Homo sapiens: one gene and its partners. The protein of the gene in region 5 purifies or fractionates together with the protein of the main gene of each other region. This does not show direct contact. Each region holds a gene or a part of one and is shown on either strand. Other genes may lie near its edges.

Region 1 (2,400 bases), on a different chromosome or scaffold from region 5:
AGATCTGGTTCTGATTCACGTCATACCCTGTCACCAGGTGAGGGTTTCTGTCTGTGTACCTACCCTTTTTGTGTATCCTTTTTCACTTATTCATTAATCACATTATTTGAGTACGTGCGAAAAGATGGGATATTTGAATTGTGCCCTGGGAGATTATTAGTAACTACACAATAATGGCAGCCAAAATTTATTGGACGCTTCCTACACTTAAGTGCTTTGCTTGCTTCATTAATGAATTCACTCAAATATTTATTGAGCACCTTTTGTGTGCAGGGACTCTTCTAAGTTATGTTCCTCAAGTAGATTATATAAATAACCTATTAAATGATTTTGGAATCAAAAAAGGATAAAAAGAGGCCGGGCGTGGTGGCTTACGCCTGTAATCCCAGCACTTTGGGAGGCCGAGGCACGTGGTTCACCTGAAGTCAGGAGTTTGAGACCAGCCTGGCCAACATGATGAAACCCTGTCTCTACTAAAAATACAAAAAATTAGCCAGGCGTAGTGGTAGGCACCTGTAATCCCAGCTACTCGGGAGGCTGAGGCAAGAGAATCACTTGAACCCGGGAGGCGGAGGTTGCAGTGAGCCAAGATGGCGCCATTGCACTCCCGCCTGGGTGACAGAGCGAGACTGCATCTCAAAAAAAAAAAAAGATAAAGAGGACTTGAGAATACCAGGGGGCGAGGGGATGTATTTGAGATTTTGTGTAGGATGGTCAGAAAAGGCCTTGCTGAAAAGATGACATTTGAGATCAGACTTGGAGGATGTAAGGGGACAAACTGTGCAGGCTTGGTGGCGAGTGGGGACACATTCCAGGCAGAGGGACCAGTTCTTGAAAGGGTACCAAGATAGGGGTGTGCCTGGCAAGTTGGAGGAATTCAAAGTCCCCAGAGTGAGTGTGAGATTGAGGAGGGTAGGAGATGAGAAGAAAACAGAATTTCATTGCTTAGGGTGAGATAGGAACCACAAGAGGATTTCGAACAAAAGAGGGTTGTGATCTGACTAAACACGTCTGCATGGGGGTAGGGGGGATGGAGACAGATGGGGGCTGGACCCTCTGGGATGGTCTCCATCTTACACTCCCCTCTTTGTCTTGCAGTACTATAACCAAGAGTGGACATTGTGGGATCGCTTTGAGGTACAAGGGCTGCAGCCTAATGGTGAGGAGATGACCCTCAAACAGTTCCTCGACTATTTTAAGGTAAGGCCCCTCCCTTACTCTGTCACCCCACCTCAGGGGGCGAGGTGTACACGGTGACTTGCTGGCCTGTCCACCTCCATGACCCTGCTGTTCCCCCTCCCTCTCCAGACAGAGCACAAATTAGAGATCACCATGCTGTCCCAGGGCGTGTCCATGCTCTATTCCTTCTTCATGCCAGCTGCCAAGCTCAAGGAACGGTTGGATCAGCCGTGAGTTGGACACTGGCCAGGCTAGGGGAGGCCCTGTATGGGTTGGGGAGCCTCATCATCCAGCTGTCCCACTCCAGTTCACTGCCCCTACCTACCTGCCCATCCTCTCTTGCTTTCTGCCCTCCTGACCCTATACTCCCATCCCCCTATCCCCAGGATGACAGAGATTGTGAGCCGTGTGTCGAAGCGAAAGCTGGGCCGCCACGTGCGGGCGCTGGTGCTTGAGCTGTGCTGTAACGACGAGAGCGGCGAGGATGTCGAGGTTCCCTATGTCCGATACACCATCCGCTGACCCCGTCTGCTCCTCTAGGCTGGCCCCTTGTCCACCCCTCTCCACACCCCTTCCAGCCCAGGGTTCCCATTTGGCTTCTGGCAGTGGCCCAACTAGCCAAGTCTGGTGTTCCCTCATCATCCCCCTACCTGAACCCCTCTTGCCACTGCCTTCTACCTTGTTTGAAACCTGAATCCTAATAAAGAATTAATAACTCCCACATCGCCTGCCCTGCTGGTTCCAGGGAAGGAAGGGACTTCCTGGAGCTGTCTGGTTCAGATGATAACTCAGAGGGCTCAACCCCACCACACCTGCCAGTTTTCTGGACAAAGAAAATGTAATTGCCACCTCTTCCTGCCCTCTCTGCCTAGGAAGAGATGGAGGCACCAGTGAGGCCATAGTGAGCAGGTACTTGGGTCCATGTGACTGTTAATTTGAGCTGGGTTCAATTCTCACCTTCTCCATGTCCTAACTCCTTGCTCTGTGAAGAGGAAAGTTACGGTGACCAGGCTGCTAGGGCATGGCCAGCGTGCCTTATGTCCTTAGGGCAGATCCCCTCCCACCTGGCTCAAAGCACTCAGACCCTGGGCAGCCTTTTGTGGTCATGGTTCCCAGCACCAGGAATGCCTGTGCTGCTCTTAGTTCAATTTCCTTGCTGCAGGGGTGTCTTAAACAGCTCTGCCGAATGCCAGTGCCTGCAGGCATACTTCGTGATTTTTA
Region 2 (3,500 bases), on a different chromosome or scaffold from region 5:
TTAATTAATTAATTAATTATTTTTGAGACAGGGTCTTGCTCTGTTGCCCAGGCTGGAGTATAGTGGCATGATCTCAGCTCACTGTAACCTCCACCTCGGGCTGAAATCATCCTCCTGCCCCAGCCTCCTAAGTAGCTGGAGCTACAGGCATGCACCACCACACCCATCTAATTTCTGTATTTTTTTTTGTAAAGACAGGGTTTTGCCATGTTGGCCAGACTGGTCTCGAACTCCTGGATTCAAGCAATCTCAACTCATCCAGCCCTTTTTAGAGTTACTTTTTTTTTTTTTTTTTTTTTTTTGAGATGGAGTCTCACTCTGTCACCTAGGCTGCAGTGTAGTGGTGCAATCTCAGCTCACCGCAACCTCTGCCTCCAGGGTTCATGTGATTCTTCTGTCTCAGCCTCCCAAGTAGCTGGGATTACAGGTGCACGCCACCTCGCCCAGCTAGTTTTTTGTATTTTAGTAGAGACGGGGTTTCACCGTGTTGCCCAGCCTGGTCTCAAACTCCTAAGCTCAGGCAGTCCACCCGCCTTGGCCTCCCAAAGTGCTGGGATTACAGGTGTGTGCCACCGTGTCTGGCCTAGCGTTCCTTTTTTAAAAAGGGGCCAGATGAGGTGACTCACACCTGTAATCCAAGCACTTTGGGAGGCCGAGGCGGGAGGATCGCCTGAGTTCAGGAGTTTGAGATCAGTCTGGCCAACATGGCAAAACTCCATCTCTACGAAAAATACAAAAATTAGCTGGGCATGGTGGTGGGCGCCTGTAATCCCAGGTACTTGGGAGCTGAGGCATGAGAATCGCTTGAACCTGGGAGGCAGAGGTTGCAGTGAGTCAAGGTGGTGCCACTGCACTCCAGCCTGGGCAACAGAGCACGACTCCATCTCAAAAAAAAAAAAAATTATTACACTACTTAAATTGGAATTTCTGAAATGTATTTTTGAAAGTAGTTAATCTAGAACCAAATCAGAATTTTTTTTTCCAAAGTGTATTAGTATTTCATCAAATTCTTTTCCAGAGTGTATCAGCATTTCATCATTTAGTTTCAAGGTCCTTATGTTTCAGCATCTCCAATTGCAGCTTTTTCATTTTTAAACAGGAGAAGTAATCTTTAGTTTTGACTTATTTAATGATTCATTCACAAAATCTTTTTTACCCTGTTATTCTTGTTGTATATTTCACTAATTCTTAAATCACAATGCATATCTTGCCTAGTATATCTTGCCTTAACCTCAGAGCTCATATTTTGATTTATTTCCGGTGAATTTTAAAGAAAAATTTTCACTACCATTTGTCCTTTGGCAGTTTACCCTCTGTTAATGAATTCTGGGGAAAAATCTGTCTCTGAAAGGATATGGTATCTTTGCTTCCTTTTGTGCATTAACTGATAGGCCTCTTAATAAATGCCTCTCCCTCAGCTGAAGGGTTTATTATATCTTTTATTAAACTCATTCAATTTTTTTTTTTTTTTTTTTTTTTTTTTGAGACGGAGTTTTGCTCTTTTTGCCCAGGCTGGAGTGCAGTGGCTCGATCTTAGTGCAGTGCAACCGCTGCCTCCCAGATTCAAGCGATTTTCCTGCCTCAGCCTCCCGAGTAGCTGGGATTACAGGCATGCACCACCACACCTGGCTAATTTTGTATTTTTAGTAGAGATGGGGTTTCACCATGTTGGCCAGGCTGATCTCGAACTCCTGACCTCAGGTGATCCGCTCGCCTCTGCCTCCCAAAGTGCTGGGATTAGAGGCGTGAGCCACTGCGCCTGGCCTAACTCATTCGATTTTTAGTAATCTTCCCTGCTGGAAAATTCAGTGTAGTGTTTCCAGGTACCTCTTGAAATGCTTTTAAATTTTATTTTTAAGAGCAAAACCCTGAAATGTGTAAGTGATTGAAGTTTGCTTTGCTTTAGTTTGCTGAGGGAAAATGTTTACAAATTATGGATTTTAAAAAATCATTACAGGTTTTTTGTTTTAAACAATGAAGCTGGGCTGTTGGAGTACTTTGTGAATGAACAGTCTAGAAATCAGAAACCTAGAGGAACTTTGCAGCTTGCAGGAGCTGTAATATCACCCAGTGATGAGGATTCTCACACCTTCACTGTAAACGCTGCCAGTGGGGAACAATATAAACTCAGAGGTATGACCAAAATATGAGAATTAATACTGTGATTTTCCTCTTTTTTTGAGAAGTTGGTGTCTTACATGCTTTCATATGGGCTTTGGAAATAGAAACTGCTGTCATCAGTGATGTAAATACAATATTCTGAACCTTGGAACTGCTTTGAGAATTTATGAAATCTTTTGTAATAAGTAACTGTTTTCAAGTGGGACAATGTATGTTTGTTTAGGACTGGCCCCTCTGAAAAACGGTGTAGGTGAAACTCTGATTACTGAAAATCTAGAAACATAGACTTTAAATGATATTTTTTATGTATTTCACCCCTTTACTTGGTTTAGTTTACGTGCCCTTTTTGCAGTTTTCAGTAACTAATGTACATTATTGGGATTTATTATAATGTCATTCATTAAAATAACGTATAACTTCTGTTAAGATAAATTTAATTTGTGTAGAAGTTTTTTATTTAATGAATACACAAAGTATAATGGTAATCCTAAGTGAGCGTGCTCCTGCAGATCTGAAAGTATTGATTATACATCAAATAATTAAGGGGTTATTTCTTTAAATAAGAACCTATTTTTATGAGTTGCAACATGTCAGTCTCTCATCCTCACCTCACTGCATGTAATTTCTCCTTTTAATGAAGTAACTACATCCAGCTACTGTGTTCCCTAACAACGTTGGTGCTTTGGCCTCTTTCCTGCCTCCCTCCAGTCAGGGAAGTTTGCTCTAGTGAGAGTAAGACCAGTATCTGCTTTTCAGTGATCTGATCTTCATACTGTAGGCAATTAATTGTGTTCCAGAATAAATAAATATAAAATAATTTTTACATTCTTTTAACAGCTACAGATGCAAAAGAGCGACAGCACTGGGTTAGCAGACTTCAGATATGTACACAGCATCATACTGAAGCTATTGGAAAGGTATGTAGATTTATATACAATATTAATATACAAAAATGAGGAAGGAATATTTTTTATTTTTTGCCTTTTAAAATTGAGATACTATTCATATACCGTAAAATTCACCCTTTTAAAGTATATACGTATAATCCTGTGGTTTTTAGTATATTCACAAGGTGGTTCAACCATTGTAACTTTCTTTTTTTTTTTGAGACGGAGTCTCTCTCTGTGGCCCAGGCTAGAGTGCAGTGGCGCAATCTTGTCTCACTGCAACCTCTGCCTCCCGGGTTCAAGTGATTTTCCTGTCTCAGCCTCCCAAGTAGCTGGGACTACAGGCACACACCACCACACCCAGCTTATTTTTGTACTTTTAGTCAAGACAGGTTTCTTTACTAAAAAAAGTTGTTTCTTTACTAAAAATGTTGGCCAGGCTGGCCTCGAACTCCTGACCTCAAGTGATCCGCCCACCTTGGCTTCCCAAAG
Region 3 (3,500 bases), on a different chromosome or scaffold from region 5:
ACTGTTTCACTCTTGTCGCCCAGGCTGGAGTGCAATGGCGCAATCTCAGTTCACTGTAACCTCTGCCTCCTGGGTTCAAGTGATTCTCCTACCTCAGCCTCCCGAGTAGCTGGGATTACAGGCACGCACCACCATACCCAGCTAATTTTTGTATTTTTAGTAGAGATGAGGTTTCACCACATTGGCCAAGCTTGTCTTAAACTTCTGACCTCAGGTGATCTGCCCACCTCGGCCTCCCAAAGTGCTGGGATTACAAGCATGAGTCACCATGCCCAGCCCAGTATACAACTTTAGAGAAGTCACTTTACCCCTCTGAGCCCAAATTCCCGCACTAAAAAAATGCAATAATTATGGGACAAACCAGAGAATGTTCGTGAAATACTCTGTAAATGATAAAACATTAACTCAAAATATTTCTCATTTCAGAAAATTGAAAAGCAAATGTTTTGACAGCCATTTAAAAACAACAGGCAAATACAACCATATTCCTCCGTGTTTTTCCCTCTGCCAATATTTACTTAAGATACCTGCCAGTTTGCTGAGATGATGCTGTCTTACACTGAGCAAAGAGATTCAAACCTGTGCTGTCCTCTGAAGATAGAAAACAAGAGCAGGTACCTCACTGAATTGCCAAATATTCCACATATTGAGGCTGAAAAGCCAACAAGCAGTCTTCCTACAGCCCTCTGTCACCTCAGACTTAACGGGGGGGGTAAACTGGCATCTCCCTGCCCCTGCACACGTTTCTGTTTAAAGTGCTGTCTTAATTTTTTTCCAAAGTTCTCAATTTAGGAAGCACCAAATTTACTCCCATAGACATCAAAAGAGAATGGAGGCTGGGCCCGGTGGCCCACGCCTGTAATCCCAGCACTTCCAGGAGGCCAAGGTGGGCAGATTACTTGAGGTCAGGAGTTTGAGACCAGCCTGGCCAACATGGTGAAACCCCGTCTCTACTAAAGATACAAAAATTAGCCAGGCGTGGTGGTGGGTGTCTGTAATCCCAGCTACCCAGGAGGCTGAGGCAAGAGAATTGCTTGAACCCAGGAGGCAGAGGTTGCAGTGAGCTGAGATCATGCCACTGCAGTCTAGCCTAGGTGACAGAGCAAAACTCTGTCTCAAAACAAAAAAAGAAAGAGAGAGAGAGAGAATGGAGAGGGTGCCATCAAGGCACAAGAAACCTACACCCACCCTCATCACATGAAAACACCTCTTCCCAACCCAGCATCTGTCCTATCTCTAAAACACACTCCTCTCATGGGTAAAGAGCCTTAAAAAGCAACTTGCAACCATTTTTCTTAAAGACGTTTCCTTAAAGAAGTTTCTTTTTGGAGATGTGGTATAAATCATGGCTCCTAATCCTTCCTTTCGCTTTCTAAACAACACTCACTGTTTTTCCTTTCCCACAGAACCTAACGTTTAAATCCATGAACCAGTTTTTACCCTTGAAAATGCAACCAGGAAGTGAAATATAAAGCATGGGATTCTGCCAAAACTTGCCAAGCTGGGAAAACCTTTCTTAACCTTCAATGAGGGGGTTCAGAATTTCTATTTTAGTATATATGTAAGCTGCTAGTTTCCCAGAAATTCTTTGTGGGACTATTACCCCCAGGTTTGAAATAAAGTTTCTGGGACTGCTGTTCCCAGCAACATCTCAATAAGAAGGATGACAAATAAGGCTGGGCATGGTGGCTCATGCCTGTAATCCCAGCACTTTAGGAAGCCAAGGCGGGTGGACAGCCTGAGGTCAGGAGTTCAAGACCAGCCTGACCAACATGTGAAACCCCGTCTCTACTAAATTACCCGGGCATGGTGGTGGGCGCCTGTAACACCAGCTACAAGGGAAGCGGAGGTTGCAGTGAGCCGAGATCACACCACTGCACTCCAGCCTGGGCAACAAGAATGAAACTCCATCTAAAAAAAAAAAAAAAACGTCCAGGCACGGTGGCTCACACCTGTAATCCTAGCACTCTGGGAGGCCAAGGCAGGCGGATTGCCTGAGGTTAGGAGTTCAAGGCCAGCTTGGCTAACATGGTGAAACCCCATCTGTACTAAAAATACAAAAAAATAGCCAGGCATGGTGGCGCATGCCTGTAGTCCCAGCTACTCAGGAGGCTGAGGTGGAAGAATCGCTTGAACCCGGGAAGCAGAGGTGCAGTGAGCCGAGATGCCGCCACTGCACTCCAGCCTGGGTGACACAGCAAGACTCAGTCTCAAAAAAAAAAAAAAAGGAAGATGATATATAAGTGAATCAATAGGTTTGACATTCTACAAGATAAATTTCACTGCCATGAAGTTCAACATTTATCTAGGGAGGAAAATATAGAAGACAGGACAGACTCCTTCCTAGGGGTGGCCCAGAAGACTGTCGGTTGGGTGAGGTCATAATTAAGGGCAGCCTCCTGGGCTGTCCAGTATTCACTGGCTTTCCTAAGGGCCTTCTAGGCCTGGTGTCTACAAAATCCCCAACTGAACATCTGTCACATTTGGTTCATCCTTCACTCTCCAACTCCCTTTGATTTCAGACTAAAAAATGGGTTGCTGAATACAAAACACACACCCTTGATACTTGGCATTATCTCCAGAGGTAACCTTCTGAAGGACTCATGCCTGGTCCCCACTCCCTGCCTCGGAGGACCAGGTTCTTAACTGCCCACTCCCAGCCTCCTGGAGCCCTAAGCCCTGCCTGGGCTCCCTGCTCCTCCCTGCTGCCCAGGGGGGCATGGATACAGGTGCTTGTGCTCTATGGTGTCTTGGAGTGGGGCATGGTGGTGGCAACTCCTAGCATATGAGGTAAATGCACTGATATTCACATTTAAAACATTATATTCTACAATATAGAAATAACTATAAAATTTATGCTAATAATTTAAACTTAATTTTTCTTTATGTAGAATTACATTAAATAGAAAAAAAAATTTTTTTTTTGAGACAGAGTTTTACTCTTGTTGCCTAGGCTGGAGTGCAATGGTGCAATCTTGGCTCACCGCAACCTTCACCTCCTGGGTTCAAGCGTTCCTCCTGGCTCAGCCTCCCAAGTAGCTGGGATTACAGGCACTCGCCACCATGCCCATAAATAGCAATTTTATTTTTTTTTAAATGACAAGTCAAGGGAAAAACTACAGAAGAACAAAATTTTACATTTTAGGATCTCTAAAGATGCTTTTTTTTTTTTTTTTTGAGACAGAGTCTCATTCTGTCGCCCAGGCTGGAGTGCAGTGGCGTGAGCTCAGTTCACGGCAACCTCCGCTTCCCAAGCTCAAGTGATCCTCCCACCTCAGCCTCCCTAATAGCTGGGACTATGGCCATGCACCATCACACCCGGCTAAGTTTTGTATTTTTTGTAAAGATAGGGTTTTACCATGTTGCCCAGGCTAGTCTCAAATTCCTGAGCCCAAGCAATCCTCCTGCTTTGGCCATTCAAAGTGCTGGGATTACTGGGTGTGAACCACCACGCCCGGCCTAAAGATATTCAGTTGGTGCAAAAGTAATTGCAGTTTTTA
Region 4 (3,500 bases), on a different chromosome or scaffold from region 5:
GCCACGTGAGGTGGCGCATGCCTGTAATCCCAGCTACTTGGGAGGCTGAGGCAGGAGAGTCGCTTGAACCCAGGAAGCAGAGGTTGTGGTAAGCCGAGATTGCGCCATCACACTCCAGCCTGGGCAACAAGAGCAAAAAACTCCATCTCAAAAATAAAAAATAAAAATAAATAAATAAATATCACAAAGCTAGTAAGCTGAAATTTGAACCCAACCATATTGTTCATATAGTAAGTGCTTCATAAATGTTGATATTCATGACTTATTATCTGACACCATTTTGTTTGTTGACATGCTAACTGCCTGTCTCAGACACCAGAAAACAAGCCCTTGAGAGCTGAAACTGGATGCTATACGTACCAGTGCCTAGAACTCTACCTGGCACACAGCAAGTGCACCATATTAAAATTAAAATGCTGTTAAAAATGCATCAGCAAGGCCAGGCACGGTGGCTCATGCCTGTAATCCCAGCACTTTGGGAGGCTGAGGCGGGCAGATCACGAGGTCAGGAGATCGAGACCATCCTGGCCAACACAGTGAAACCCTGTCTCTACTAAAAATACAAAACTTAGCTGGGCGTGGTGGTGCGTGCCTGTAATCTCAGCTACTCAGGAGGCTGAAGCAGAAGAATCACTTGAACCCAGGAGGTGGAGGTTGCGGTGAGCCGAGAACATGCCACTGCTCTCCAGCCTGGGTGACAGAGCAAGACTCCATCTTAAATAAATAAATATCCATCAGCAACCTTGGTTGCTTAGGAAGGCCTAAGGTAGTAGCTCTCAGACTTTAGTCAACACACAAACAAGAACAAACATAAGGGCCGGGTGCAGTAGCTCACGCCTGTAGTCCTAGCACTTTGGGAGGCTGAGGCGGGCGGATCACCTGAGGTTGGGAGTTCAAGACCAGCCTGACCAACATGGAGAAACCCTGTCTCTACTAAAATTACAAAATTAGCTGGGTGTGGAGGCACATGCCTGTAATCCCAGCTACTCAGGAGGCTGAGGCAGGAGAATCACTTGAACCCAGGAGGCAGAGGTTGCAGTGAGCCGAGATCACACCATTACACTGCAGCCTAGGCAACAAGAGCAAAAAAACTCCATTTCAAAAAAAAAAAAAAGACACAAGAATGCAGATTCTTGCCCCCATCCCCCAGCGATGCCAAAGCAAGTGGTCCTATGACCCCACTCTGAGAAATAGCACTTAAAGAACAGTTCCTGGTACCGGGCCGGGGCTCTCTGACTGCCCCTCCTGCCACTCTCCCCACAGGACTGAAGTCTGAAGCTTGACCTCCAGATAGGGCAGCCAATGTTGGGGAGGCTTAGGAATCAGTAAAGCAGGAAGGCTTCCTGCCTGCAAGCTGGGGAGAGCTGTGTGCAGAAGGCACGCTGGTGACAATCGCCCAGCCTGGGGAAGGCCAGGAGCATCAAGCTGGGCTGGGCGGGGCGGCGGGCGGGGGGGGCGCGCGGGGAGGTAGAGGAAAAGGGCTGGCACCCCAGCGTGGTCAGAAGCTGACACTAGACACTCGCTTCCGGAATCCCAGGGTCTCCTAAGGGCTCCTCAGCACAAACTGCCAGGGCAAATGCTCTCAGATTCCCACACCCGAGGTGCTCACTCCAAACGAAATCTCATTTCCCACCACTCACCTTGGCACACCTTATGCTGTACCCATCTCCCTAAATACACCAGGTGTCTAAAAGTCTGGGCCTCATTCGTGTTCTTCTCTCTGCCTGGAATGCCAACCACTCCCACTCTATCTCCTTCCTTCAAGGTCCAGATCAATGTCACCTCTTTCATGAAACCTCTCCAGATCACAGCAGCTGATGGTGGGTCTAGGCCCTACACATTTGGTCTCTGTGCTGTGACTCATCTCTCTCACTACACGTGAGCAGAGACTGTGTCTCCATTACCCACTCACTCAATACCCACTGAGCAGACACTGGGAACCAGGAACCGACATGTTGATGATTTCACAGTAACTAACAAGTCGCAGCCCTGGCCTCTCAGGGGAGGGCAGACGCCCTAAAGGCCAAGTAGGAGGAGCCCCTTACCCAGCGTGTGCAGAATGAGCTTTGGGTGCCCGCCTTCTTTGACACGGACAGGTACTACATGACCAATCCATGTGTGTAACGGGGGGGAAACCATGGGGCCTGGCTGCCAGGGAGAAGAGGAGCCGGCAGGTACTGATGCAGCAGTCACCCACTGAGCACTAACCTGAACTGGGAGCAACTGCTGGCTGGACGAGGGATCCCCCCACAGCCAACTGCTCCCCAGGGGGAGGGATCAGGGTGGAGGTTTTCCCCCCTGGGGGAGGGGGAAGCAGGCTCAGCCCTCCTGTGCTGGCAGGCCGGACTCGGGGATTCCCAGCTGCTCCTTCCTTCTTCTTCATGTTCTAAAGAGGGAAGAGGAATGCAAATCAGCCCGTTCTGCTGGAGTCCCAATGCTACCAGAAAACCCCACAAGGAGGGCCAAGGTGACCCCAGACCCCCAACATCTGTGTAACCAAAAGATGGTCCTACCTAGCACCTCCATTGCTATGAGCTATACTTAGTGCATCATCATTCTGAATCTCTCACAAATAAGGTCCATTTTAAAACCCAGCACCCCCACTTCATTCATCAGGGAAATGCAGATCAAAGCTATAATGATATACCATTACACGCTCACCAGAATGGCTAAAATGTAGATTATCAAGTATTGACTACGATATGAAGTAACCATTCACGCGCTGCTGGCTTAAGTGTAAACTGGTAAAACTACTTTGAAAAATTATTTGAAAGGATTATAAAGCTCAACATAGGAACTTAAACTTATGACTCCGCAGTTCCACTCCTAGATATAAACCAACAGAAATCATACATATATGCACCAAAAACATGAACTCAAACATCTACAGCAGCATTATTTGTAATCGCCCCAAACTGGAAACTACCCAAATGTCCATCATCAGTAAAACATAAATAAATCGGGTGAATTCTCACAATGGTACATGCCACAACAATGAGAATGAACAAACTACACGCAACACCATGGATGACTCTCACAAAAATTACATTGAGTAAAAGAAAGAAATCATTCCAAATCAAGATTAGGTGTATGATTCAATTCATGAAAGTTAAGAACAAACAAAATCTAGGGTATGTGAAGTCAGGATGGGGTTACTCAGGGCAGTTACTGGGAGGGGCCAGGAGAGGTGTTTCCAGAGTGCTGACAATCTTTTGCATCTTGAGCAAGGTGCAAGTTTATAAATTGGGTGTTTTGTTTTGTTTTGTTTTTTGAGCCAGAGTTTCGCTCTTGTTGTCCAGGCTGGAGTGCAATGAATGGCTCGATCTCAGCTCACTGCAACCTCCACCTCCCAGGTTCAAGCCAATTCTCCTGCCTCAGCCCCCGGAGTAGCTGGGATTACAGCCATGGACCACCATGCCCGGCTAATTTTGTATTTTTAGTAGAGACAGGGTTTGTCCATGTTGGTCAGGCTGGTCTCGGACTCCCGACCTCAGGTGATC
Region 5 (3,500 bases):
GCGTGAGCCACCGCGCCTGGCTACAAGTTTTTAAGTGATTCAAATTCCTCTCTTGGTGAGACTTATGTGTGAAAGGAATACTAACAGGTCAGTAAGTTAGCTCAACCTCTGGAATAAGAATTCATCTAAGTCTTCTAATCCAATTGTAAGAAGCAAGGAAGCAAATTTTAAATCATTGGGTATTGACTTTTTATTATTAGTCACTGTTCATAATTTGTTTCAACCAAAAGACAGTACACACAGCAGAATTCTAATGCATCCCATGTAAATGTTTACATCCATTTTATTCCTCACTCGCCTCTAAGACTTATCATTTAACTTTAAATTTTTTTTTTTACATCTCAAAAATATGTCTGCAATAATTAGAGCTTCATTAGCTGTCCCACTTGGAAACAGCTTTTTAATATTTTTACAGTAAAGAAGATGTGATGGGGCATAATGAAAATGTAACTTACAACACTAAGAAAGAAAAGGGCCTTTATAGGAACACAGTGGGAGTTCATAAAGGAAAGAGTTCAGAAGCTCTTTCCCATGGGGCCCCCAAATGGAAAACAAAAACAAAACACACAAAGCGCAACCGCAGGTTCTTTGAGGGAAGAAAAAAAAAAAAAAAAAAACCAACTCCAAGGCTCCATCTTGAAGCCAGAATCAGCCTCTTGGAAGTCTGTAAAGCAACTGTGCAAGCTGCTTCGGCATTTCCTTCTGTTAAAGTGTTCCAGGTCCTGGAACCCTGTCGATGGGACCCACTCACTGATATTGCTTGAAAAAGTTATTCACTTCCAGTTCTACAAGCAGCCCCACTCTCCCGAGCCAAAGCTGGTCAAAAGTGTTTTAAACTTCAGGACTTTCTGTGCAATTCTCTCTCCAATGATCCTACCCACTCCCAAAGTCATGAATACACAGACATGTAAAACCACTCTCCCAACTACAAAGTTCATGAACACCCACTTTTTCCTCTCTAGTTTTCTCAGTTTAGGACACTGTGGTTAAAATACATTCACTAGAAAAAAATAGACACATTCAAACTCCTTTCCCCTAGTTCTCATGGCCCAAATATTTTCCAATGCAGAAGATAATGAAGTTGAACCTTGAAAGCAGTACTCCCTAACTTCCAATTTCTACGACATAAAAAAAATGGGAAGCATGTTATATAAACCATTAGTGTTGGACAGTTTTAAAAGTCTATTTTCATATATGAATGGGACAAACAAGGAGTACAAATCACACCTTTAAACTAGCAAGAGGAAAGAATCCCCTCCCAAATGTTACACTGAGGAATGTTTCTTTAAATGATAAAGACCTTAAAATTAACAGATGATCACTATGCACAGCCTAAAACTTCCGTGACTGTCCAAACCACCTCAAGGTAACAGCACCAAAGCACTGTGGGAGAAGCTTCTCAGGGAGAGCACCCTTCCTACAGTTTTTTGAGATTACTTAGATGAATTAATTCTCCTTTAGGATTCCCCGGGATGGGGCAGAAACTAGAATAGAAACGACTCTTGAAGAGGGAAATAATGAAGTACAAGTGCATGTGAAATTGTCAAAGTAAGTGTGTGAGGGCTCACTGCTTATCACCCCAGGGTTATCAAAACAGCCTTGGAAAATGCTCTTTCCTCACAATGCCTGTGAAGTCGTAAATCCATCCAAATTTGCTCCCCCTTGAGTGGTTATACTCGGGAAAGGAATTATTGAAATGTGCAAGTATTCAAAGAAATTGAAACATTTCTCCATTTAGCTGCAAGGCCAAGTGAGAGGAAAACTAATTCTGATCCTAGAAACTAAGGCACGCTGAAGCTTTCAAAGATCCAATCATTTGAAACAGTCTTCACAACCATCAGTATCCTAGGCAGTTATTTGGCTGCTAGTCCTTCAGTATGGTGCTTGTGTTCTGATTCCAAAATCAATTCATATTCTACGCAGCACCCTTTGTGTTAAGGCCATGATATTTTACTCCTTCTAGACAAAGCTATGAATGATCATAAACTCTACCTCGAAACTATGATCACCCAAGGAAATGCTCTGTCAGCAGAGTAGACCCTTCCCAGCTCCATTAGCTGACAGTGTCTTATAGCATGGTCTTGAACAGATTTCTTCAGAGATTCAACCCAGTTCAAATAAAAAAACCTGAGCTGGTTAGCTACAAATATAAGAGAGAAAATAAAGCCTCTACACAAAGAGGAATGTTAAGACAAATTCTATTCAAGAAATCCACCAACATTATGTTAATCCTATCATGTTTCACAGCATTAAGTATCCATCCAATGAAATCAGTCTGCAAAGAAACCCTTAAAGGCTATTTTTCATTGCACAGGCAGAGCAGTTGTCTGAAATATGCACTAGTCCACACTTACATTACTGAAAACTATGCAGGAGATATTATCCTGTTCTTGACTCAGTCAACCATTTACCCAGTGGAGTAAGTTTTAGCAGATCTTGCTCATACACACTAGTAAGACCAGAAACTTTCCCGTGGAGCCTTTAGTTCAACTCCAGTTTGTCAAATGTTAGGAATATTCCAGCATCTGATACAGAGCTAGATTTGACAAGACACTGAAGATTTTAAGTAAAGGCTTGGTGAAATGAAGGGGAAAAAAAGGGATATTTGTTTCCAGGTTTAAGATTGAAGCCATAGTAGTCATTATACTGTATTCAATACAGTAACAATTGCAAACATTGTAAGAGCAAGGTGGGCCTCACTTTTTCTTTCTTCAGTATATAAGACATGGCGCCTGAATACTTGAACATACATAGTACATTCAATGTGTACCACAGAGAGAGTCACCTCTACTTCATTCCAGCAACTCAATTTCAAAGTTTGATAACATATGGGTCCTTTCTAAAAAGCACTTGGCACTCTCACTAGTTTAAAAAGCTCAAGTCTTTGATGTGAATATTCATGAGATTCGTCTTTTAAAAGAGACCAATTTCTCAGACTGAGGAAAGGCTATTCCTACCCTATGGTGTCCGTAAGACCTCCTCTGACATAGGGGTATGGAAGCTACAAGGCTTCACTCCAACACCATAAAGTACAATATGGAAAGATTTCTTTAACCGTGTGGTCTTTATTTCAGTGCCAGTGTTACAGATACAACACAAATGTTCCAGTTAGAAGGAATTCAAACGGAATGCCAAGGTCCAAGCCAGGCTCAAGAAATAAAAAGGGAGGTTTGGAGTAATAGATAAGATGACTCCAATACTCACTCTTCCTAAGGGCAAAGGTACTTTTGATACAGAGTCTGATCTTTGAAACTGGTGAACTCCTCTTCCACCCATTACCATAGTTCAAACAGGCAAGTTATGGGCTTAGGAGCACTTTAAAATTTGTGGTGGGAATAGGGTCATTAATAACTATGAATATATCTTTTAGAAGGTGACCATTTTGCACTTTAAAGGGAATCAATTTTGAAAATCATGGAGACTATTCATGACTACAGCTAAAGAATGGCGAGAAAGGGGAGCTGGAAGAGCCTTGGAAGTTTCTATTACAAATAGAGCAC
Region 6 (3,500 bases), on a different chromosome or scaffold from region 5:
TACTTGGGAGGCTGAGGCAGGAGAATTGCTTGAACCCAGGAGGCGGAGGTTGCAGTGAGCAGAGATCATGCCATTGCACTCCAGCCTGGGCAACAGAGCAAGACCCTGTCTCAAAAAAAAAAAAAAAAAAAGAGCAACTGTTGGCCTGTGGCTTAGCGCACCCTCACTCAGGTCCCCAGGCACAAGAGTGGTCACAGGAGTGCCCAGTGCTGGCCTGGCGGAAGCTGGGCAGGGAGAATGCTTCCAAACTTGTGGGAAGAGGCCTCTGGGCCTGGCCAGTGTTGCCAAAGGCCTGGGCTCACCACCTCTTCCCTCCTGGAGCTCCACCCACCTGCCTGACCTAGCAAAGCACCCAGGAAGTGCCTGGGCCACTTCCGGGGCTGCAGCTGCCAAGCTTCCTGGCCTTGGGGCCTGGGGTGGCAAGGGTGGCCCAAAGAGTATGGCAGTAAGAGTAAGGGGTTTCCTCCCCATGCCAGAGAGGCTGGAGTGCCATACGACTGCACCCCCACCTGGCAGGACTTCATGGGACCCTTCAGCCACCCCAGCAGCCAGATGCCCCCAGGCCTGGGACTGCTGGCTAAGAATTCCCCCAAAGCCTGGAGCACCCAACTCCATGCAGCTGGTCTAATCCACTGGCCCAGGCCTGGCAATATCCACAGTTACCCTGTCACCTGCCCACTGGCCTTCTGGGTGAGCCAGGGGAGTGGTCCCCACAGGGCTCCCGGCCTGCGGCCTGGAAAGATGGAGCCATCTGGGTGTTGAGGGGGTGCTAGGAATGCTCAGGCAGCCTCTGACCGGATCCTCCCCAGCCCCTCCTCCCTCCCTCTAGGGAGGGGGCTGCCGGGAGGGCCCAGCTTGGGCTCAGCTTCCGGCTACCTTCCTGGAATGCAGAGGGAGGAGGTGGGGAAGGAGGAACCGGGGGAAAAAACACCCATCTGCCCACTTCTCCCTGACTTGGTTCCCAGCTGCCCCTCCCTGGCAGTCATCACCTTCTCAGGGAGGCCTGGGGCTGGCCTAGGAGTCAGGAGCCCTGACTGCCAGTCCTGGCTCTTCCCTGAGCCTGTTTGCTCTTCTGTGAAATGAGTGCTCCCAGGCCCTGCTCCAGGACCTTGATGGGGTCCTGGGCTGGGGCGTCCCAAGGTGGGGGGGCCTGGAGGAGTGGGGAGTGTTGTAGGGCACTCACAGCTCCTTGTAGTTAGCATCGTACAGGGTCGCCCACTTGTTCTGCTGATGAGGCTGCCACTTGATGGACTGGTAGTTGGGGTCCAGGTAGGAGCCACTGAGGCTGTCACTGTCCTGCAGGAGGCCTGGAGGGAGGGAACGCCCATGTGGGCCCTGCACCTTGGGTCCCACACCCCACCTTGAAGAGTTGGCCAGCCATGTACCTGGGGAGGGGGCACCTGGCGGGTGCCAAGGCGGTGTCTGGACACGGGCAATGCTGAGAGGCAAGGAACCAGGGCCCGGGGAGAGCGGACCCTGGGGAGGCCAGGGTGGCGATGGGGCTCGAGTGGGGTGCAGAGGCAGGGCTGTCACGGTCCCAGGCTCCTGTTTGATCATTCCATTCAGCATCTGGGCATTGAGGGTGCTGGGGGGGGATTCAGAGTGCTTCCTCTTCTTGGAGGGGTGTGTAGGGAGCCTGGGGAAACAGAAGTGTGCGCCGTGGGGGCTGGCTCTCCCCGAGCCCCTCCCACTGGGTAGTATCCACCTCTCTCCCCTCTCTAGCCTGTTTGGGCCAGGATGTGCCCCGCCCAGAGGACACCTCCTTCAGGAAGCCCTCAGGCTTTGCCTCCTCCTACTCCCCATTGCTCTGTGCTGTCATTTTCTGCTTCTGTCACTCTTCGCTTCCCCCAGACTGTGGACAGGAGCCACACCTGACTTGGTGTCTCCATCATGCCCAGCAACAGGGCTGGCTTACAGAATCACAGCAATCGCTTGAGGAATGAATGAGTTTGTCCCTGCCTGCAGTGTCACACTCAAGGTCACCCTTTATAGTGGGGGCTCTATGGAGAGCAGGCCCTGTGATCAGAAACAAGCCACAGAGGGCCTGGGCCACAAAAACCAGGGAAGGGGAGCTTCCGCACGGCACTCCTTCCCCTTCTGGTTTACAAAATGTTTTGACAGCAGAACCTTCCTTTGAACTAAACCTTTCATGGAATCTCCACATGTAAAACAGATGAAAAGACAATCGTGCAGGTTGAGTCAGAGTCGGGGGCTTGGGTCTAGGAAGAAGACTCCTCAGAAACCTGAGGGTTCCATGAGACAGCTGCAAAATCACTGGGGTCTGGGTAAGAGCACAGCCCCGGGCCCAGTCCTGGCTCTGCCCCTGGCTCATGATCTGGACGGGACATTTCCCCCATCAGAGCCTCAGTTTACCTACCTGTGCCCACCAGATAAGGTAGTTGTGAGCAATTAGCCATGGCTGTAAACCCCTCAAGGTATTGCTGGGTAAACATGTATAAATATGTTACCCCCATCTGCCCTGCAGAGCCTTCTGCCCTCCCTGGGTGCATCCCGGTCCCTACCTCCCTCTCTGGCCTGCCCGCCGCCCTGCCCACCCTGGTCCCTGTACCCCACCTTCCCACCCCATGGAGCCAGCCACCCACGTCTTACTCAGCTCCGTGCTGCTGCAGGAGCTGGTGCAGCATCTGGGACTGCTGGGTGTGGTGAAGATCAGTGGGCACCAGCCCCTGCCCCATGGCAGCGTAGTGGGGGATCGGGGGCTCGGCCTTCATGTACAGATCCCGCTGCAGGACAGGGTAGTGAGGTGGGGGTGGTGGGGGTGGCGGGGGGCCTGGCAAGTGGGCTGGAGGTGGGGGCGGATGCTCCAGGCGGGAGGGCACTCCCACGTGGCACAGTGTCTCAGGGGTTATCGTGCGCAGGAGGTGGGGCTCTGCAGGAGAGATGGGGGAGCGGGCATCTGAGACCAACCTCACTCAGGCTCCTGGGCACTGTCCTCCCCAAGGCAGAGTCTCCTGCTTCCACCCCGTCCTGAGCCAAGCCCGGGGGCTGCCCCCCACCTACCCTAGGTGGGAGGGCCGTTGGTCAGCCACCTACTAGAGGCCTGGGCAGGGAGGCACAAACCTGCCCAAGGAGGGGCAGCCTTTCACCTCATCCTAGCCACCTCCTGCCCCCAGGCTGGACCAGGAGAATCCAACCCAAATCTAAAGGTCCCCCTCCGTCCCCATCTCCTCTGAGGCCTGCTCCTCCTCTGGGCCTCAGGAAGGCGTCTCCGGAGACCCCCAGCCCAGGCCTGCCCAGTGTTCCCCTCTCCGGCAGGCAGTCCCTCTTCTGGGCTCTCAGGGGCCAGCCCCCCAGCCTGAGCGGGGAGGCCCCAGCTCCCTTTGTTCCCCAGGAGGCATTCCAGGGATGTTTTTGGTAAGATAAACAGAACTCTTGACCCCAATCCGGACTGCGGGGAGCCTGCTCCCGCGGTGGTTCTGCTCTTGGCCACCTGGGGGCCAGGGCACCCCTGAGCACCCTCTAAGGTGAGGTGGGCCCGG
Region 7 (3,500 bases), on a different chromosome or scaffold from region 5:
GTGGCAAACATTAGCTCCTCTGTCCTGAAGCAGTGTACAGGCTTGTCAAAGAATTATATCCCACTATACTGGGCTTGGAGCTAAGAATCCAAAATTCTAAATTTTTCTCTGGCTCCAACTGGTTCTGCTGTGCCTTGTGAAACTCATTTGCAAAGTAAAGGAATGGATTCGTAAAGTCAATTCCATATCCTGATATATACTCACTGGAATGCCCTAACCTTTTAGGCTGTGTCTGGAGAATGATTTAGCCGTAAGAGAAGAAGTAAGACATGATCCTTTTTCGTGAGGTGGTTTGCTCTTTGCAGAATTTTTATCTATCATTTTATCTCCCAACAGAAGAGGTTCCTCAAATTAAAAAAAAAAAAAAAAATACTTGGCTGGTGCAGTGGCTCACGCCTGTAATCCCAGCACTTTGGGAGGCCAAGGAGGGTGGATCACCTGAGGTCAGGAGTTCAAAGACCAGCGTGGCCAACATGGTGAAACCCCATCTCTACTAAAAATACAAAAATTAGCTAAGCGTGTGGTGGTGCATGCCTGTAATCCCAGCTACTTGGGAGGCTGAGGCAGGAGAATCGCTTGAACCCAGGAGGCAGAGGTTGCAGTGAGCCGAGATCACGCCACTGCACTCCAGCCTAGGTGACAGAGCGAGACTCCATTTAAAAAACAACAACAACAACAACAACTTACAGTGCTTCTGTCAACTCTCAACTTGTACAGGACTCAGCTCCTGCATCCTGACTTGGAGAAAGCACTAGACTGTTTTGAAAGTGGCCTTACCAAAAGTTCTTGTGCTCTTTATTTACATCATGTTGATCTAGCAAGTTAGAGACATTTCCCTTTGCATAAAATAAATGTGTCCATGTGTGTTGTCCTCCTAGGGCTCCGCCATGTCACAGATGACCAGAAGACATACAAAAATCCCAGCCTGCGGGCTCAAGGAGGGCAAACTCAATCTCCCACCAAAAGTCACACTCCAAGTCCCACATCTCCTAAATCTTATCCTTCTCAAAAACATGCCCCAGTGTTGGAGTTGGAAGGAAAGAAATGGAGAGTGGTAAGTGAAGCATTTTAACCTTTATTTTCCTGACATGCGCCAATGAAAGGACCAACAGCCAAACCATTTACCAAGATCTGAAGGATTTCTTTTTTTTAATTTTTGTATTGGTACATAACATTTGTATATATTTATGGGGTACCTGTGATATTTTGTTACATGCGTAGAATGTGTAATGATCGGCACTTTGGGGGTTTGAGGTGGGAGGATCACCTGAGGTCAGGAGTTCGAGACCAGCCTGGCCAACATGGTGAAACCCTATCTCTACTAAAAATACAAAAATTAGCCGGGCATGGTGGCACGTGCCTGTAATCCCAGCTACTTGAGAGGCTGAGACAGGAGAATCACTTGAACCCGAGAGGTGGAGGTTGCAGCGAGCCGAGATCACGCCACTGCACTCCAGCCTGGGTGACAGAGTGAGACTCTGTCTCAAAAAAAAAGAATGGGTAATGATCAAGTCAGGATATTTAGGGTGTCCATTACCTTGAGTATTTATCATTTCTATGTGATGGAAGCATTTCAAGGCCTCTTTTCTAGCTATTTTGAAATATTTAAGACAGTGTTGTTAACTATATTTACCCTACTCTGCTGTCGAATTAGAATTTATTCCTTCTGACTATATGTTCGTACCCATTAACCACCAAGGTGAAGTGACAGAGGCAAAAACCACTGGCTAGAGTAGAAACCAGGGTGTTTCTGAATGCTTCCATAAACTTTATTTTCACAGGTTCTCATGCATTCTTTTCTTCAACTTTTTAAATTATTTTGTGAGTGGTGGTAAAATAGACGTAGCATAAAATGGACTGTTCACCATGTTTAACTGTCCAGCTCAGTGGCATTAAGTCTGTTCATATGGTTGTGCTGCCATCACCACCACCCACTACAGAACTCTTTTCATCTTGCAGAACCAAAAATCTGTACCCTTAACCAATAGCTCCCTGTTTCTCCCCCTGCACCCCTCCCAGCCCCTGGCAATTACCATTCTACTTTCTGTCTCTATGAATTTAGCTATTCTTTCTATAAGCTTTTAATCAGGCAGCAAGACAGACCGTTAATATATGGAACTGGGAAGTCTGTGCCCCACTCTGATGTGCTGTGAGATGTTTCGTTCAGTCCCATGGATGGAGGGATTGATACCTCTGTACCCTACTGCTGCCACCCCCCACTGCCCGGGCTAAGTGTGTGAGCAGGACATAGACACTTCAAATGGTAATGAAAGCTGGTGTCTCCTGCTGATCTGGAGGGCTTCCCTAAAGATGAAGGACCAAAGTCCCTGGAGAGTTGTCATCGCCTTGAAAACACAAGGGCTTAGACCACTGCTGTGACCCTTCACCAGCCTGTTTGCCCAACTCCTGTTTGACACAGCAGGTTTTGCTGCATCATCAAGTCCAGACTTGGCATCAAGGCCTCAACAAAAAGCTCTCACATCCCTGCTCCAGCCTCCCACCTGCTAGGGTGCCTGATACCTGATGTTTACAAAGAGATACTGACTTGCTTCCAAGAAGTGGTTCCGTTTTTCCCATCCTAACAATGACAGAGTAAGACCTGTGGTTTCATCTATAAGGAGATGGTTCCAAAAGAATATATTGCAAAGCCATACTTCATGCTGAGCTCGTACTAATTTCAGTGTGCAGTGGTTTCTGTTTATATATGCTGATGTTTAATATTTGTATTTGTCTTAATTCTAGGAGTACCAAGAGGACAGGAATGACCTTGTGATTTCAGAGACTGAGCTGAAACAAGTGGCTTACATTTTCAAATGCGAAAAATCAACTATTCAGATAAAAGGGAAAGTAAACTCCATTATAATTGGTAGGGCAGAATTATGGCTCTATGGTTATTATGATGTTTTATAAACAAGCTGTATGTATTTAGTGGAGTTGGTTTTTTGTTGTGTTTTTTCTCCCCACAGACAACTGTAAAAAACTCGGCCTGGTGTTTGACAATGTGGTGGGCATTGTGGAAGTGATCAACTCCCAGGACATTCAAATCCAGGTAAGCAGAGCCTTTCCAACCATGCTGTAATAAGCAGAGCCTTTCCAACCACGCTGTAATAAGCAGAGCCTTTCCAACCACGCTGTAGTAAGCAGCCTTTCCAACCACGCTGTAATAAGCAGCCTTTCCAACCACACTGTAAGCTGCGGCCTTGCACAGACCATCCACTCTGCCTCCAAGAAGCAGCCTTGCAGCCAGTCGCGGTGGCTCACGCCCGTAACCCTAGCACTTTGGGAGGCCGAGGTGGGCGGATCACGAGGTCAGGAGATTGAGACCATCCTGGCTAACACAGTGAAACCCTGTCTCTACTAAAAATACGAAAACAAAATTAGCTGGGCATGGTGGCAGGCGCCTGTAGTCCCAGCTACTCTGGAGGCTGAGGCGGGAGAATGGCGTGAACCCAGGAGGTGGAGCTTGCAGTGAGCGAGCCAAGATCGCGCCACTGCACTCC

The links.
Region 1: the proteins of AP1G1 (region 5) and UBA1 fractionate together in Homo sapiens (co-fractionation; 2 studies listed by BioGRID). This does not show direct contact.
Region 2: the proteins of AP1G1 (region 5) and OSBPL11 fractionate together in Homo sapiens (co-fractionation; one large-scale study listed by BioGRID). This does not show direct contact.
Region 3: the proteins of AP1G1 (region 5) and PLEKHA7 purify together in Homo sapiens (co-immunoprecipitation; one large-scale study listed by IntAct). This does not show direct contact.
Region 4: the proteins of AP1G1 (region 5) and NECAP2 purify together in Homo sapiens (affinity purification with mass spectrometry; 3 studies listed by BioGRID and IntAct, with this or other methods). This does not show direct contact.
Region 6: the proteins of AP1G1 (region 5) and MYRF fractionate together in Homo sapiens (co-fractionation; one large-scale study listed by BioGRID). This does not show direct contact.
Region 7: the proteins of AP1G1 (region 5) and CAP2 fractionate together in Homo sapiens (co-fractionation; one large-scale study listed by BioGRID). This does not show direct contact.

Annotation. Positions count from the first base shown.
Region 1 is NC_000023.11:47,213,229-47,215,628, forward strand, and holds the end of UBA1 (ubiquitin-like modifier-activating enzyme 1), read left to right. Parts: intron 1-1,098; coding exon 1,099-1,200; intron 1,201-1,308; coding exon 1,309-1,409; intron 1,410-1,565; coding exon 1,566-1,701; 3' UTR 1,702-1,900; downstream 1,901-2,400. UniProt on the Homo sapiens protein: Catalyzes the first step in ubiquitin conjugation to mark cellular proteins for degradation through the ubiquitin-proteasome system.
Region 2 is NC_000003.12:125,578,498-125,581,997, reverse strand, and holds part of OSBPL11 (oxysterol-binding protein-related protein 11), read left to right. Parts: intron 1-1,957; coding exon 1,958-2,133; intron 2,134-2,958; coding exon 2,959-3,038; intron 3,039-3,500. UniProt on the Homo sapiens protein: Plays a role in regulating ADIPOQ and FABP4 levels in differentiating adipocytes and is also involved in regulation of adipocyte triglyceride storage. Weakly binds 25-hydroxycholesterol. Interacts with OSBPL9 to function as lipid transfer proteins.
Region 3 is NC_000011.10:17,004,415-17,007,914, forward strand, and holds part of PLEKHA7 (pleckstrin homology domain-containing family A member 7), read right to left. Parts: intron 1-3,500. UniProt on the Homo sapiens protein: Required for zonula adherens biogenesis and maintenance. Acts via its interaction with CAMSAP3, which anchors microtubules at their minus-ends to zonula adherens, leading to the recruitment of KIFC3 kinesin to the junctional site.
Region 4 is NC_000001.11:16,450,724-16,454,223, reverse strand, and holds part of NECAP2 (adaptin ear-binding coat-associated protein 2), read right to left. Parts: intron 2,387-3,500; coding exon 2,209-2,386; intron 1-2,208. UniProt on the Homo sapiens protein: Involved in endocytosis.
Region 5 is NC_000016.10:71,728,835-71,732,334, forward strand, and holds the end of AP1G1 (AP-1 complex subunit gamma-1), read right to left. Parts: 3' UTR 166-3,500; downstream 1-165. UniProt on the Homo sapiens protein: Subunit of clathrin-associated adaptor protein complex 1 that plays a role in protein sorting in the late-Golgi/trans-Golgi network (TGN) and/or endosomes.
Region 6 is NC_000011.10:61,769,636-61,773,135, reverse strand, and holds part of MYRF (myelin regulatory factor isoform 2 precursor), read right to left. Parts: intron 2,891-3,500; coding exon 2,611-2,890; intron 1,637-2,610; coding exon 1,386-1,636; intron 1,308-1,385; coding exon 1,184-1,307; intron 1-1,183.
Region 7 is NC_000006.12:17,540,095-17,543,594, forward strand, and holds part of CAP2 (adenylyl cyclase-associated protein 2), read left to right. Parts: intron 1-878; coding exon 879-1,054; intron 1,055-2,742; coding exon 2,743-2,866; intron 2,867-2,966; coding exon 2,967-3,049; intron 3,050-3,500. UniProt on the Homo sapiens protein: Involved in the regulation of actin polymerization.